Linked DNA regions of Homo sapiens. The protein of the gene in region 1 interacts with the protein of each later gene in a biochemical or structural test. Each region holds a gene or a part of one and is shown on either strand. Other genes may lie near its edges.

What was found.
Region 2: of the proteins of PPP3CA (region 1) and KCNIP3, one has a biochemical effect on the other in vitro, tested with the Homo sapiens proteins (one study listed by BioGRID).

What each region holds. Positions count from the first base shown.
Region 1 is NC_000004.12:101,056,830-101,064,901, forward strand, and holds part of PPP3CA (protein phosphatase 3 catalytic subunit alpha), read right to left. Parts: intron 6,529-8,072; coding exon 6,403-6,528; intron 4,333-6,402; coding exon 4,258-4,332; intron 1-4,257. UniProt on the Homo sapiens protein: Calcium-dependent, calmodulin-stimulated protein phosphatase which plays an essential role in the transduction of intracellular Ca(2+)-mediated signals. Many of the substrates contain a PxIxIT motif and/or a LxVP motif.
Region 2 is NC_000002.12:95,369,868-95,377,939, reverse strand, and holds part of KCNIP3 (calsenilin), read right to left. Parts: intron 3,645-8,072; coding exon 3,520-3,644; intron 3,093-3,519; coding exon 3,023-3,092; intron 2,803-3,022; coding exon 2,732-2,802; intron 1-2,731. UniProt on the Homo sapiens protein: Calcium-dependent transcriptional repressor that binds to the DRE element of genes including PDYN and FOS. Affinity for DNA is reduced upon binding to calcium and enhanced by binding to magnesium. Seems to be involved in nociception.

The DNA.
Region 1 (8,072 bases):
TGTTACCAAAAAAAAAAAAAAAACAACTCACTTCAATATACGTTGTCAATAAACAGTATTCCCAAAGAAAACCAAGGATTTCTGAGAAGCTTTACAAATTATTCTTTGAGCATCTTTAAGCACCCTAACCCTAACCCTTTGAGGAAATCCAGTTTTGATGTCATGTTACATTAAATGCTAGGACTCCTGATTGCTTATACTGAAATATATAATATCTTAAGTAGAATATACTTTTTTTTTTTTTTGAATCAGTCTCACTGTGTCACCCAGGTTGGAGTGCACTGGTGCAATCACGGCTCACTGCAACCTCTGTCTCCCGGGTTCAAGCGATTCTTGTGCCTCAGCCTTCCAAGTAGCTAGGAATACGGATGTGCACCACCATGCCCACCTATTTTTTTTGTATCTTTAGTAGAGACAAGGTTTTGCCATGTTGGCCAGGCTAGTCTCCAACTCCTGACCTCAAGTGATCTGCCGGCCTTGGCCTCCCAAAGTGCTGGGATTATAGGCATGAGCCACTGCACCCAGCAAGATATACTTTTAATTAAAACTTAAAACTTTCATTTCTGTATTTCTTCTTAAATGGCAAATTTATGAGATATGAACTAAAAGGTCACATTTAGAAGTCACAGTTACAAAATGAGGACAGCATCTATTAACATTAACTTTGACACATTTCGGACTCCGATCTCTAAAGTCCTCAATGTTCACACTGAACATGATCTTAAACTTGCATCTAGAAAAGTGTGGGCAGACAATACCACACTAATGCTGGCCCGGCAGTTTCCAAATTCAATGGAGAGGCATTCAGCATTCTCCTATTATCACCCTGTTTAGAAAGGAGAAAACTATTCAAAAAGGGTAAATGTAGAACCTAATATGTTTTTCCCAAAGCACCAGCTTCTTCTCAATCATAACCTATCGTGAATGCATAATGTATACAATGCCTCTCCTTGTTGAATTTAATTTCTCTTTTTCAATTCCTCTGGGCTCTTTTTCTATGAAATTTGAATCTGATGCTGCTCATGGAACCAAGGCCTGCACTGCTATCATATGCTGGCAAAGCCCAATCAGGCAGAAGGATCTTTTCTTTTCACCTCTCCTCATCTCTTTCTTCCTCCTCCTCTCATATGTACATATACAAAAGAAATAAAACATAAGATTAGATGATTGTTTCTCTTTAGTTTGACTAAGGGAAATACACCAACAAATTTTAAATAAGATGGAGAAAAAAGGTAGAAAAAACACCCACATACTACTGGTTAAGTGAGGTCCATGAGACAGGAAACCAAGGAAATTAAATTGTCTATCCCTAAAAATTATATAGCAATAATCTTATCTCTTTCTGCTAGCTCCCAATCTGATAAGTTATAGACACATAGGACTTTTAATATGCATTGAATACTTTAATTAGCCTGTGTGTAAATTTTGCTTAAAATTTTGAAAACACAAATCTTATTGTTAATATAGCTAAGCAGAAATAAATTAAAGCAGAAGAAACTGTTCAGAAAGATAAATAACTTAATGATGTTTAACTTGACAGGAATGGACCACTGAAGGAAGTTGACAAAAGTGAGAGATAAAGCTCATCTTTTCTAGCTGGTAAGAGCAGGTTAGGCATTCCTGACCATCTTCCTCCCTGCACCTGGTAGGACAAAATTTCTCTGCAGGACTGACTTAAAACTTAAAGAGTGGTAAAGGGGGAATTCAGGGGTCTGCTTAGAAAGAAAAAAATTCTTCCAAGGACCTTAAGACAAACATGCACTCCTACAATTGGAATTAAAACAGAGTTTAAAAAGCAATTGGTGGTGAGCACAGCACATTGATTAGAACTAATTATTTTAAAATAAAGTAACTGACAAAACAAATCCTTTCATGTAAGTAATTGAGATGGTGAGTAAAGGGAACTTACTAGAAGTGAAGTAAGCACAGGGTTAGTCTTGGTAATGTTGGTAACTGTGCAGGAATAACATGTACCAGTGAAATGTGCAGTCATTTTGGCTATGGTACCTGGTACTTAGTAGATACTGAATATATATTTGCTGAGTGAATGGATTAACATAAAAATTACAAACATATGTAGGTCTACACATTCTTATTCTCTACAGTATGTTACATTTTTGTTCTCTATATCATAAATACTGGCCAGTGGACTTTGCAAAAAACAAACATTTATTAATAGGGGATTATTATTGTATTAATGTTAATCTTTCTTTTAAAGAATAAAAGGAATATAGTGAAAGGTACATACTGAAAAACGTTTGTTGATGTTTATGATTTAGGTTCCATTTGGTTAGTATTCTTTTAGGAAAAAATTTCTGCCATTCTGAAAACAGTGCTATCATTTAAAAGATAACAGTAGCAAACTGTGGCTATAACATATGAAACATCTAGAATTTAGATAAAGCACAAAATGTCCATTGATCTCTTGCATATTTCAAAATATGCCAATATATTTAAGTTCTTATATATTCTTAATTTTAGCCCAGTAAAGTTGTTTTTTAAATATATCCATTTTCCCCTTTCCTTCCCTATGTTGCACATCTCCTTGCGATGTGGTATATGACTCAAAAATAGTATATGAAGACAAGTAATAAAGACAAGAGAAGTTATAGAGGAGAAAAACTATGAGATGTTAAAAATAAATCTCATACATTAAATTTACCTGAGTATATAGACTCTATTTACATGAGTGTATGAACAGGTTTATTATACTTTTGCCTGCAGCATTAGGTATTTTGCATTTATACCCATGACCTGTATCAAGCCCAGGTAAACATTAAATCATGTCATTTGGAAACCAACTTTTAGAAAGGACCACATTCTCTTTTCATTTTACTGAACTGCAGTTTTTAAAGGTATACATTTTATCCATTTAAACTCACCATAATATCTAGTTTCCCTTGCCCTCTTCACCCTTTATTTATAATTTGTGTCATTTTATTGATATTATTAGTTTATGCATCAGTCTCTCCAACCAGTTTGCAACTTCTTCAAAGAATAGGTTTTTAATGCATCTTGTAGCCCTGGGTGTCCTGAATCTAGGACCTCTGAGTATACTTTAATCTCCAGACTACTTAACAATACTGAACACAATGTCAATGCTATGTAGATAGTTGTTAAACTGTATTATTTACGGAAAAATGACAAGGAAAAAAAGTCTGTATGTGTTCAGTATAGATGCAACTTTTTCTTGAATTATTTTCAATCTGAGGTTGTTTGAATCCATGGATGCAGAACCCTCAGATACGGAGGGCTGACTGTACTGCTTTTATTTTTGAGATGGGATCTTGCTCTGTCACCCAGGCTGGAGTACTGTGGTATGACCATGGCTCACTGCAGTCTCAACCTCCTGGGCTCAAGATTTCCTCCCACTTTAGCCTTCTGAGTAGCTAGGACCACAATCATGCACCACCACACATGGCTAATTTTTTGTAGAGATGAATTCTCCCTAGGTTTCCCAGGCTGGTCTCAAAATCCTGGTCTCAAGTGATCTGCCTCAGCCTATCAAAGTGCTAGGAACCACTGCACCCGGCCTCAACTGTACTTCTTAAATGCAGTAAAGTTTGCTCTTATGCTTTTCTTCTCTAAGTACATTTTTGTCAGTTTCCATTCATTTTGAGGTGCTTTTGTAAGACTCAGGGTAATTTTCCCCTTCATCTTTAACTTCATGGATCTGTGCCTCTTGCAGAAAAAGCATACCCTTTGAGGGTAATTAAACACCAAGTAATATCTTAAAAAACATAAAAAACTCCTCACAGTTTATTCATTACCTATTACTACAGAAAGAAGAAATATTGGGATTGAAATAAATACCAATATATCAATATGTAAATGCCTTTTTCATCATAAACATCAAAACTTGAATAATTGATGTGAGCAACCCCATTAGAGGACATTTTTAAATTGCCTGGTAAAAGAAAAAATAATTGTCCAGTAATTGGTAACATCTGTTAGAAAATAAAGGATTAAATTTGTATCAAAAAGCCAAAAAAGGTCACTTAGCAATGTGAGCTACTGAAAGCTTATTAAAACAGTTTACTACTTTAACAATGTTTTTAAAGTAATGAGAAAATTCTCATGATATTTGTTTCTTATACTTTTAAAAAGTAAACAGAAAATGAAATCATATCTTTTATTCTCAATAATGTTACGTTTTAAACATAATCCAAATCTTAGAAATTTATTCTTAGATTTAGCAATGAGACTCTAAGTAATTATCTGGCAAATAGCATTAGCACAAAGGCTCAAGCCTCTTACCATCAAATCCATCTTCTTCTGACCCTAGTTCATCATCTGAGCAGATGTTGAGGACATTTACCAGCATCTCAGTCACTAAAGAGAGAAAGCAAAGAAAGAAAAGTCAGGGTTTTCTGTTATAACCTTAACTATTACTCTGGCATTGTTAATGAGCAAACTTAGCAATAACATTTCTTATTTAGTTTGTATATAGAAGCAGTTTCAGTAAACATCCAGATCATAAAAGACAGCCTTTGTGATTCTATGCAGACTTTATGAAACTATTAGCTGATGCTTATGATATCTAATGGTAACATTTACTAGCTCTAGGTCAATAGACAATGACAAATCAAATATGTGGATGTGAATATACTACAAATCAATGAAAGAGAAAATAGTTTTTTTGAATTTTTATTAGTCACACAATGATAAGGCTTAATCTAGATCAGATTACAAACTTCTGTTCAGTAGGGACTAAGAATGATGATTTTTCTTATATTTTTAATCACCTAGAGAACTTCACGCCATTATAGGCATGTGGTTTTGTGTTTAATACAAACTGTTGATTGATAAACTAATATATTTGAAGTATTTTTCAGAATACTAATTTTAAAAATGTATTGACAGAAATATCATTAAATTTGATTTTCAAAAATGCTTAAAAAATTAAACAGTTGCAGTTTAATCAGAAATTTACTTAATAGATTACAATAGGATTACATAAAAGTGTTGTACAGAGGAAATTAGTACTGCATTATTTTTATACTATAAACCATGCTATTTACATTTAATATTTTTTGAAATTAGATTGGATTCTACCATGCATGTGAAAAGAAGCCTGTCTACTGCTTCTTTGAGAGCTACTTTTTAAAGTAATATGCTATTTAAAAAAATGTCCTTCTAGAATTGAAGATGAATGATAGAGAGTCAAACTTCAATAGAGCCAACACTGATCCAGAGTTTCAGTTTAATTATCAAAACTGGATTTTGTGTACCAATAGATTAATATGTTAATTTCTAATAAATGTCCCAAATTTTAATAATTAATAGAAACAACCCAAATAAAGGATGTTCAAAAGGTGCCCCATAGTTGTCAGCATCCACACTGCTTCTGTTTCCAGCGAAGCCAACAGATGACACTACTCCAATTTGATCAGTGCAAGAAAGTTGCAATATGGAGTAGTATTGGGAATATTTATCAGAGATTATTAAAAATTTACTTTTGATTATTTTGATATTCAAAGGGAAGGCTTCTTTGCCAACAACTCATAACTTGACTGGTTTAATCATTTTAGGGCATTTAAAGGGAAAACAACCATTAGGGTTTCAGAAAAATATTTAGCTTTTCTCTGATACTCCTCATAGAACATCATTACTCTGATACTTATAGGAACATTTATTTTTCTTACAATGCCCATTCACCTTCTCATGGAAAGTATGAGAAGATACATGAGAATCAATCCGTGTATCACTGTTAGGCCTCCTGAATGAAAAACAATTGGTGCAGACATTTCCCCAAAATTTTTGTTGGGGTTTAAGTCAACATATGAAAGCAAAACAAAGGAGGAAAGAAGGAAGGTAGGAAGAAAGTTAACAAATAACTTTCTAAAATGTAAATTTGTCTCCTGTTCTGTACCTTATAATGCGCTAATGCCTACATTATTGATGAACTACTTTGCTGTTGTACATGTTGTTCTTCAAAATATTGTAGCCATTAAGCACTATCGTACAATAATTTATTAACATCAGAAATGTAAGGAGAGCATGGCTATCCTAATCTTTTAATTTGGCAGATAATTTGTAAAATTAAATAGTCCTTTGGGATTATAGTACAAATGGGTAAGGAAAAAGGGTAGACATTACTTGAAACCAGGTAAACCTGTATTTCCATTATTTTTTAAAGCGTTATATTATTCTAATAAGATTGTAAAAATTTCCTAAATATTCCTGTGTTTTGTTTTTTTTTTTGCTTCCCCCTCATTCACCAATTGTGTCCTGTTAATAGGATACAGAGTGACACACTGCCACTTCCAAATCACATCTTTCATTGTACAACTTGTGAATTTTATTGGCTGGGCCAAAGTTCTTCTCTTTCTGAGTGTTTAATCTCCTTTCCTTCCTTCCTAAACTATTTTAAGAAGAACATCTCAGGATTCCACAACATACCTTTTTCCCCAACAAATGGAAGGGACCAAGTAAAAACATCCATGAAATTTGGAAGCCAGTATGGATGAGGAGAACAGTTGAATTGCCTGATATTCATAACATTGTTCTCATACTTCAATACTGCAGCTAAAAATAACCAAAAGAGGATGTTAGGAACACAGAACATATTTCTGCTTCTATGTATGGCTTTAGCTCATCAAGAAAATTCAACCATTTGACTGAAGTTCCAAAACATCCAGGCTCACACCTTAGGCATCCCAGAATGCTTATACAACTTATGGACTTAAACCTTACTCAGGGTAATATATAACTGCACAATATATGAATAATTAATATGTAATTGTGTAACAAATTGGAAAATATTTACACAAAATAGTTAATCCAATGTCTGTCAGGAACTGATTCAAGCTCCCCTTTCAGCCAAGAATACTTTGGTCTTAAAATTTGATATCTGATGACACTAATAAAAGTGGCACAGCTAAGTTTGACATAATAATCTCCTCAAATATTTGAATGAATTTATTTTTAAAAAGTAAAACTTCAATAGAACTCCCAACAGTTGTACAAAATAGTTTAAGTTAGATTGCTTTAATTTTTACTTTATTTTTTAAATTAATATAATAATTGTACATAATTATGGGGTGCATAGTGATGTTTTGACACATATAATGCACAGTAATCAGATCAGGGTAATTAGCTATACATTAAATACCATATCAAACATTTATCATTTAGTTGTATTTGGAACATTCAATATTCTCCTTCCAGCTATTTGAAATTATAATCTATTATCGTTAACTATAGTTACCCTATAGTAGACTGCTTTCTTGACTTAATAAAATAAAATGTTTGGATTGAATCCCACATAAAATAATGTGCTTCTATCTGACTCTATCCTTGATTTCTGAAAAAGATGTCCATCCATGACTCAGGAAGACAAATCTGCATGCTTCATGTCTCTGTGAGTACTTTCAATAAAGGAAAAGTCACCTGTTTTAATGAGGTCACCTATTCTATGGATAGACAATTTGAAGTTGCAGGAAATTCTCAGGTTGCATTTAAACCTGCCTTTACCAGTCACTGATCATGGTTTTGCTATGCATTTCATATTTAATATTTAATGTCATTCTGCTTCTGAATGACAGCCTTTTAAATATTAAATATGATACTCAAGCATACCTTCTTAGGCTTTGGCAAGATTTCATTTTTATTATCTATTCAGGGCATAATTTGTATTACATTAGAAGACAGTAACCAACAGATTTTATATGATATCATATGATCTTTTCTTGCTTATGTTATGGGGTTGAAAATACAGAAAAAGTAATCATTTCTTTACTTTTTTGTTTTTACTCAGAATGGATGCTCAGGAGCTGGAGACACATCTTGGTATCTGCCTTACAATCTTTTTCAAGCAAATTATTTTTATCCCCTTTCGCCCTCTTTAATATGACATGGCTTCTTGATGCTTTAGCTCAGCCTGCTCAACCTATTCTGAATGCATGCCAGATTGGCAATGTCTCTGTTAAAATGTGGCCCAGAAGTAATATAATCATCTAGGTTGGTTTGAACAGTGCAGAGTATGGGGAGAATATATCATTTTCTGTGGTGTGGATACTATATATATCATATTGTAGCCTAACAATATGTTGATGTTTTTAGCAGCCTGC
Region 2 (8,072 bases), on another chromosome or scaffold:
CTGTCCTCCACCTTATCTTCAGCTGACATGGGCCCCTCAGGTGGTCTGTCTGTCTGCTGCGGAGAAGCCCTCATGTTCAGCCACAGAGCCTGCTGCTAGCAGCTGAGGAATGTCCCTATGCAGTATCCCTTAGCCTCTCTCTGTGTGTTGGCTACAGTAGTGACAGTACTAGGAGATGGTGGGAATGTCCTGTTAGGCCACTGGCTAGTCTCCATTCATAAAGGTAATACACAGATGACCCCAAGTCCAGCCAGCCCATGTCTGAGTGCACGCTGGTTCTAAATTCCTTGGCCATACACAGTGCAACCATGGCAAGTTGTAACTCCATGCTCTGAATGCCAAAGTGTAGGAACCCTGTCACATCCACAGCCTCTGTTCTACGGCTGTCCCCATGGCAGGGGCTAGGCAGGGTGAGGGCTCCAGTGACACAGCATACTTCCAGGTGAAGGTGCACAAGAGTGCACAGGAGGGTCTCCCGGCAGAGCCCGGAGCAGGTGCTCAGCGAGGGGGTGGGAGTCGCATGTGGTTGCTGGGCTTGCAGGCTGCCCTCACACGGCCCTGGATGCCGCTTGGCCACTGGCACATGGAGCAGTTTACTGTCGGGGGAGGTAACAGAGAAGCGGCCGCACCTCCAGATGCCTGCCTGGCTGCCACTTCCAAACTGGGCCTGACTTGATCCTGGGCACTGAAGAGGCCCCAACAGTCTACGGAATCGTTTTGGAAGCTCTGCACGTCCTGGCAAGCCAGATGAGTTGCACGAGAAAGGCCCTGGTGGCCAGAGCGTTCAGCAAATCTGTGTGTGGCGCTGCTCACCTGGGGCTCCCTGCTGCTGGCAAATCCCAGAAGGTCCGTGGGGATGGGAGCAGGAGCCACTCCAAGGTGGGGTGTGGGGATGGCATCGCCCGCTTGGCTCTGTTGAGGTCTGTGTGTTTTCCGATTTGGTCTTTTTGGTTATTCTTTTTGGTGAGCGGAGGGAGGGTATTACCTTTTACCATATCAGTAAACTGTAACTAATATGCATCTTGTCTCTAAGAATATACAGAAAGGGACAGAATCATTGCAGACAGTGTCATGCAGGGTTGCCTTGCATTACAGACGCACGTAGGAGGCTCTGAGGGCTGGCAGTGAGGATGGCCCGGTGTTCTCCAGACTAGATTTGGTGCCTCCGTCCCTGGCAGGATCCTTTGTGACCACTGGGATCCCAGTCTGTGGGGCTCCCAGGATGGGGCCATGGGGGCTTGTGCCCTCCTCCTTCCCAGAGCAGAACACTTTGAAATCGAGAAGTTCCTCAAGGTAAATGTACCTGCGTGAAGCCAGAGGACTTCGTTTCACGTGCAGAGAAGCTGCAGAAGGCCCAGGAAGATGCCAGGGATGAGTGATCTTCTGAGAAGGTGCCCAGCAGAGGGGCCACAGCACAGCCACTGACAGACCCAGCCCAGAGGGCTGCCACCTGCTTCCTTAAAGGGCCACAAGGCTGTCCCTCAGGACAGCGAGGGTGATGGCCACAGGAGGTGAGGGGCGACTGTGACCTTCCTGAGCACTGCCATGAGCAGGGGCTCTGCCGAGCCTCTCAGTCATCTCATTCCTGAACAAGAAAAACCACTCGCACCCCGCCTGCTCCCTTACACCGTTTCCTAAAGATGCTTTACTGCCTGAAGTGTCAGGTGCCTCTTAAAGGGCACCCCAGGAGAGAGGGGCAGGGAAAGGACCTTGAGTCCTCCCTGAGGCTCCTCCATGCTAACCGGGTGTTTTCTGTGTGCTGTGGGGTTGGTATTTCAAATCTGAAAACAAGATTTGAAAACACGGTCTGCTTCTATGTGCAGAGCCCTCAGAGTGTGGCTCAGAGTCGAGGGGTCCTGTGGTCACAGGGCAGGCGGGGAGCGTCAGTGTGCCTGGCGGGCTTGCGGCATAAAAATAACCCGCGCAGCTTATCGACAAGTTATTATTACCCCGTGTGGCCGGGGCCTTCTGGCCCCATGTGCTTCTCTGTGCTTTCCTGTTAGCTGCCCTTAGCCCAGTGGAAGCCAAGCTGTCGGGGTATCGATCAAGCCGGCTCTCAGAAAGGTTTTCCTCCCCAAAGCGGTTTCAGCTTTTCGCCTGCAGCTATTTTTAGAGGCTTGGGCTCCGCAGATGGGGCCTCTCTCCAATGATCCTGTGTGGCGGGGCTGGGGAGGAGCCCAGGCCAGGACCCCACAGGGAAGCTGTCTGGGTGGGGGACAGGCTTCTCCTTCCGCCAGTGGGTAACACCAGGCTTTGCTCTCAGTGCCCAGCTGGGATGAGCCCTGGAGGCTGCTCCGGCTGGGATGTTTTCTAGATATTTTTGGCCTATTTTCTGGGTAACAAGGAGTAAATTCTGAAAATGGAGGTCTCACATCCCACCGTCAGCAAACCAGGCCTCTGAGTTAAGCCCTGATCCCTTTGAAAATGCAAATTCCCGCTGGGTCACTACCACCCGTGTGTGTCTCGGGGGCTCCCTTGACCAGGCAGAGCTGGATGCAAACTCTCAAATGGAAGAAAAGGCTGAGAACGTGGTGCCGGCCCAGCAAAGTCAAACACCCCAGAGCTCACTGGCCCAGGGCCAGCCACATCCACTCATTCCCAGGGTGACTCACAAGATCCTTCCCACCCAGGACCATGGCTCTCTCGACAGCCCTGACAGTGACGCCAGGGTAAGGATTCACTCCTGCAACCACAGGGGCAGGACACGTGGGAGGAATCCGCGAGGACCTACCTCAAAGTGGATGGCCCCGTTCCCGTCCGCATCAAAGGCGTTGAAGAGGAAGTGTGCATAGGTGGTGGCATCTGGGGAGGGCAAGGAAGAGGCTGGGGTGTGTCGGGGCTGCCTGGCGGCTCATCTCCCACCCCAGGCAACCCCAGCTGAGGGTGCTAACTGCGTCCTGGCTTGGAGTCCCTGTTTCCCACGGGACAGGGGCAGCACCAAGCCTCCAGGATGCAAGGGGCAGCAGGAGGGTCCCCTCCCTCCACACTGGGACACAGCAGGGCTGCCCTGCCTCAGACTCACCTCCCTGAGGGAAGAACTGCGCGTAAATGAGTTTGAAGGTGTCTTCGTCCACCAGGCCCGTGGGACACTCCTGCAGCAGGAAGGCACCCCCTCAGCCCTCGGCCACCCCCAGCTCCAAGCCCGACTCTGCATGGTGCCTGGCTGGCCTCTCTCCACCCCCTTGGGGGCTGCCTGCTGCCTGTGGCACTGCTGGGGCCCCCTGGCCTGGGTTGTGGAAAGCCTGGGTAGAGGTGGGGTGAGAGGGAGGAGGGGTGAATAGGAAGGGGGTGACTGCTCCCCCATACCCTCCTCCTCTGTACCAGCAGCAAAGACACGGAGGGAGGAGCATGGCGGCCTCAGCGATGCCCATTCCGGAGCCTGCCCCCGCCACACAGCTTTCCCACAACACATAAGCCCCTTAAAGGCCCCTGGGATATTTACTGTGGCATGGAGAAGTTTCCAGGTCTCCCTGAGCCAGGGTCTCCAAGGCCTCTCCCGGGGGAATGGGGAACACTCACATTCTTAAAGCCCCTGTAGAGAGACTGCAGCTCCTTCTTGGTGAACTTGGTCTGGGCCTGCAGCTGGTCCAGCCCCTCTGGCTGGTGGCGCACCGTGGACAGCTCCAGCTCACTGTCGCTGCTATCTGGAGTGGGACACAGACCAGAGAGTGTAAGGCCTGTAGCCCTGCTCCTCCATCTTGCTCCAGTGTGGCCAGGGCATGGGCCAAAATAGCAGGTGGAGGAACTCTCTTTGCATGACTACCATGGACAGCCACACAGGCTGTGCACTGCACAGAGGGGGTGTGACTGAGTGGCCCACACAAGAGCTGTGCCTCTGCTTTCCTGCCCCCCACAGGGCGGGCCTCCCCATCGCAGCCCCTGCAGTGTGCCCCCCTGTCAGCCGCACAGTGGGACAAGGTGGGAGCTGCTCTTGTCCTAAAGAGGCACTGAACAAGGGGATATAGGAGGGGGAAAGACAGCAAGACAGGCATGAGGGACACTTGAACTTCAGTATCCAATTCCTAGACCACTTCCTCCATGTGGCCCTCCCTGACTTTCCCCAGGAATGGAGAGGGTGCCTCCCTTGGCCCTCAAGGCCTAAGGCGATGCTGTTCAGCTACAGTTGGCAGAGGGGTGTTATTCACATCTGGTTAGGAGGCTAAACCTCCAGGGCTGTGGGGGCAGGGATCAGACCTGTCCTTTAAAAACAATACACAAACTTGGCAGGGTGCGGTGACTCACACCTGTAATCCCAGCACTTTGGGAGGCTGAGGCAGATCACGAGGTCAGGAGATCGAGACCATCCTGGCTAACACGGTGAAACCCCGTCTCTAATAAAAATACAAAAAATTAGCCAGGCATGGTGGCGGGCGCCTGTAGTCCCAGCTACTCGGGAGGCTGAGGCAGGAGAATGGTGTGAACCGGGGAGGCGGAGCTTGCAGTGAGCCGCGATCGCGCCACTGAACTCCAGCCTGGGTGACAGAGCAAGACTGCATCTCAAAAAAAAAAAAAAAAAAAAAAAAAACCACAAACTTGTTAACTAACCATGGCTACATTTGAGGGGGAGGTGCAATTTCAGGTGATTTTTACTTTTTTATTTATGATTTTAAAAAACATTTTCCTAATTTCTTTTGGTGTGACATGCATCACTTTTACAATGCAAAATAAAGCTAGGGCTGAAACAGCACTGAGTGCCCACACCTTGCTGAGCAGCATCCTCGCATAATTACAGAGCGCCACCTTCCCACAGACCCAGGACTCATGGGCCCCGCTGCACCGTCGCCCTGTCTCCCCTGGGCCACACAGAATGGTGGTGATCCATAATCACCCTCATGGCTGGTACTCTGGTGCTGGCTGCTGCCTCTCCCACTGCACAGTGAGCTCTTCAGGGGCAGCTGTCCTGCACAGCTCATCCTGTGCCCGTGGTGCCTGGCATGGTGCTGGGCACTGGTCCTGTGCTGAGCTTGCTCCATACCCAGGCCTCTCCCGAGAGCGTGGTGGGAAAGACAGCCTGCACTGCCCACTCACACTAACCACAAGAGCACCCTGAAAGCTGCTCAGCAATTGGGCTGTTTCTTTGGTCCACACATGCTCCCCATCTCCAAGATAACTATTTCATACCATCCTTCCCCTTAAGTTTCCAGTATCTCCTCTCCCATCCTTACCCTCAGGTTGCTTCCCACTTCACTGAGAAGACACAAGCCATGGAGGAAAACTTCCCCAAGCCCTCACCCCACACCTACCCACCTGCCTGCACCTGGCCCAGACGTCTGCACGCCTGCCTGCTCCATGGCTGAACTGTGCCTGCTCCCAGCAAAGGCAAACCTGCCACTTGTGCAGTGGGTCCCGATCCCTCTCACCTACTCAGGCAAGCGGTGCCAGCCAAGTCTCCCACTCTTTCCTCATCACCTTTTCCCCTCTTCTGGATCATTCCCATCACCATATAGACATACTGTAGTATCTCGAATCCTTAGTCATATTAAGTATAGGCAAACCCTGTAAACCAGCATCCCACGCCAGGCAAGCATCCCACATAGACTCTTCCCCTGCCCAGGGGCCTGCACAAGGATGCTCACAGCAACAGCATTTTTGGCAGGAGAGTTGGAGGCAACTCAGGGGTTTATGGCAGGCAGGATGGGTAGGCAAAATATGGAGGCTGCACACTGGGGAGAACTGTGCCGTGGAGCAGATGTACACACAGCAGCGTGGATGGATGGATGGATGGATGGATGGTAAGAATCCTTTGATTAAGAGGCAGACTTTTCAGACTGGAAAAGCAAGATCCAATTATATCCTGTTTACAAGAGGGATACTCCTAATACAAAGATATATTAAGGCTGGGTGCTGTGGCTCACTCCTGTAACCCCAACACTTTGGGAGGCTGAGGTGGGTGGATCACCTGAGGTCAGGCGCTCAAGACCAGCCTGGCCAACATGGTGAAACCCCATCTCTACTAAAAATACAAAAATGAGCCGGGTGCAGTGGCGGGCACCTGTAATCCCAGCTACTCAGGAGGCTGAGGCAGGAGAATCGCTTCAATCCAGGAGGCGAAGGTTGCAGTGAGCCAAGATCGCGCCATTACACTCCAGCCTGGGTGACAGAGTGAGACTCCATCTCAAAAAAAAAAAAAAAAGATTTAAAATAAAAGAATGGAAAAACATTAAGAAAGCTGGATGTTTTATAATGATACAAGGATTAATTCATCAAGAAGGCAGAATAATCTAAAACAGACATCACCTAGTAACAGAGCTTTAAAATACCTAAAACAAAAAATTCAGAACTAAAGAGAGAAACAAAAAAGTCACAATCATAATTGGAAGATTTTAGCACCCCTTTCCAGTAAATGGTATGACAAGTGACGAAATAAAAGGTTTGAAAAACACCATCAACCAATTTGACCTAATTAATATTTATAGAACACTGTATAATTGTAGATACACATTCTTTTCAAGAGCATATCCTGAGGTTACCAATATATATCAGATGCTGGAACACAGACTCTTACCACAATGGTACTAAGTTAAAATTCAGGACAAGATATTTAGAAAATCTCAAGTATTTGGAAATAAACAATACATTTCTAATTAGCTCATAGGTCAGAGAATAAACTGCAAGGTGATCACATTTTGAGATATTTTGAATTGAATGATTAAAAAAACAGAGCATATCAAAATTTGCTGGATGCAGGTAAAGCTGGGCTGACAGGGAAATTTATTGCTTTCAATTCCTTTATTAGAAAAGAAGATAGGTGTAAAAGCAATGACATAAGCTTCTAGATCTAAGAGTCAGAATCTAAAAAATGCAGAGCAAATTAAATTCAAAGTAAATAGAAGAAAGAACATAATAAAAACAAGAGTAGAAATCAATGACAGGCTGGGTGCAGTGGCTCACGCCTATAATCCCAGCACTTTGGGAGGCCGAGGCAGGTGGATCACTTGAGGTCAGGAGTTCAAGACCAGCCTGGCCAACATGGCGAAACCCTGTCTCTACTAAAAATACAAAAAAAAAAAAGTTAGCCAGGTGTGGTGGTGCACACCTGTAATCCTAGCTACTCAGGAGGCTGGGGCATGAGAATCGCTTGAGCCCAGGAGGTTGGAGATTGCAGTGAGCAGAGATCACACCACTGCACTCCAGCCTGTTGACAGAGCAAAACTTCGTCTCAAAAAAAAAGAAAAAAAAATCAATGACAAATATAAGCATAGCCACAAACCTTATAATAAAGTCATTAAGAAACTCAAGTCACAGGCTGGAAAAACATATCTCCAGTATATGTATCTGACAAAGGACTCATTTCCAGAATACATAATTAACTTCTACAAATCAGCATAAGACTAATAACTCGATTTTGTAAACAGGCAAAAGACAAGGACGTGTCACAAAAAAAGATATACAACTGGCCAATAAGCACAGGAAAAGGTACTTGAAAGGACATGTGAGAATTCATGCAGTGATGGGAAAACTGGAGTACTGGCTCAGCCAGAGTGGAGATACCTCCCTAAGCATCTCAGGTGTTGGCTGAAACCCCAGAAAAGCTATGCTTTAGGACTGTGAACCACATCCTTGAGTAAGCGCATGCTCTAGACCCAATGACAAAGTCAAAACAAACCTACTCTGACAAAGCCTAAAATAAAGTCTGTGAAGATCACATGAGTTGGCCAATAATTTAACTACATGCCAAACCAAAATTTGTTAGCATTTATATTAAAACAATATAATCCATTGCCTACACTATCCCTTTCACAATGTCCAACATACAATAAAAAATAAAAAGACATGAGAAGAAGCAAGAAAATGTGACCATAATAAAGAGATGAAGGATAAGCAGAATTATTAGACTTTTGTTAGAATTATTAGAAAAGAACTTTAAAACAACTATTATCAACACTTTGAAAGAAATAAAGAAAAGAAAGCATAATAGATGAGAATCTTAATAGAAAAATTAAAAACTATAATAAAAGAACAAAATGGAACTTCTAAGCTTGAACAAAACAATACCTAAAATTAAAAATTCACTGGATGGACTGAGTGCAGTGGTTCACGCCTGTAATCCCAGCACCAGAGGCTGAGGCAGG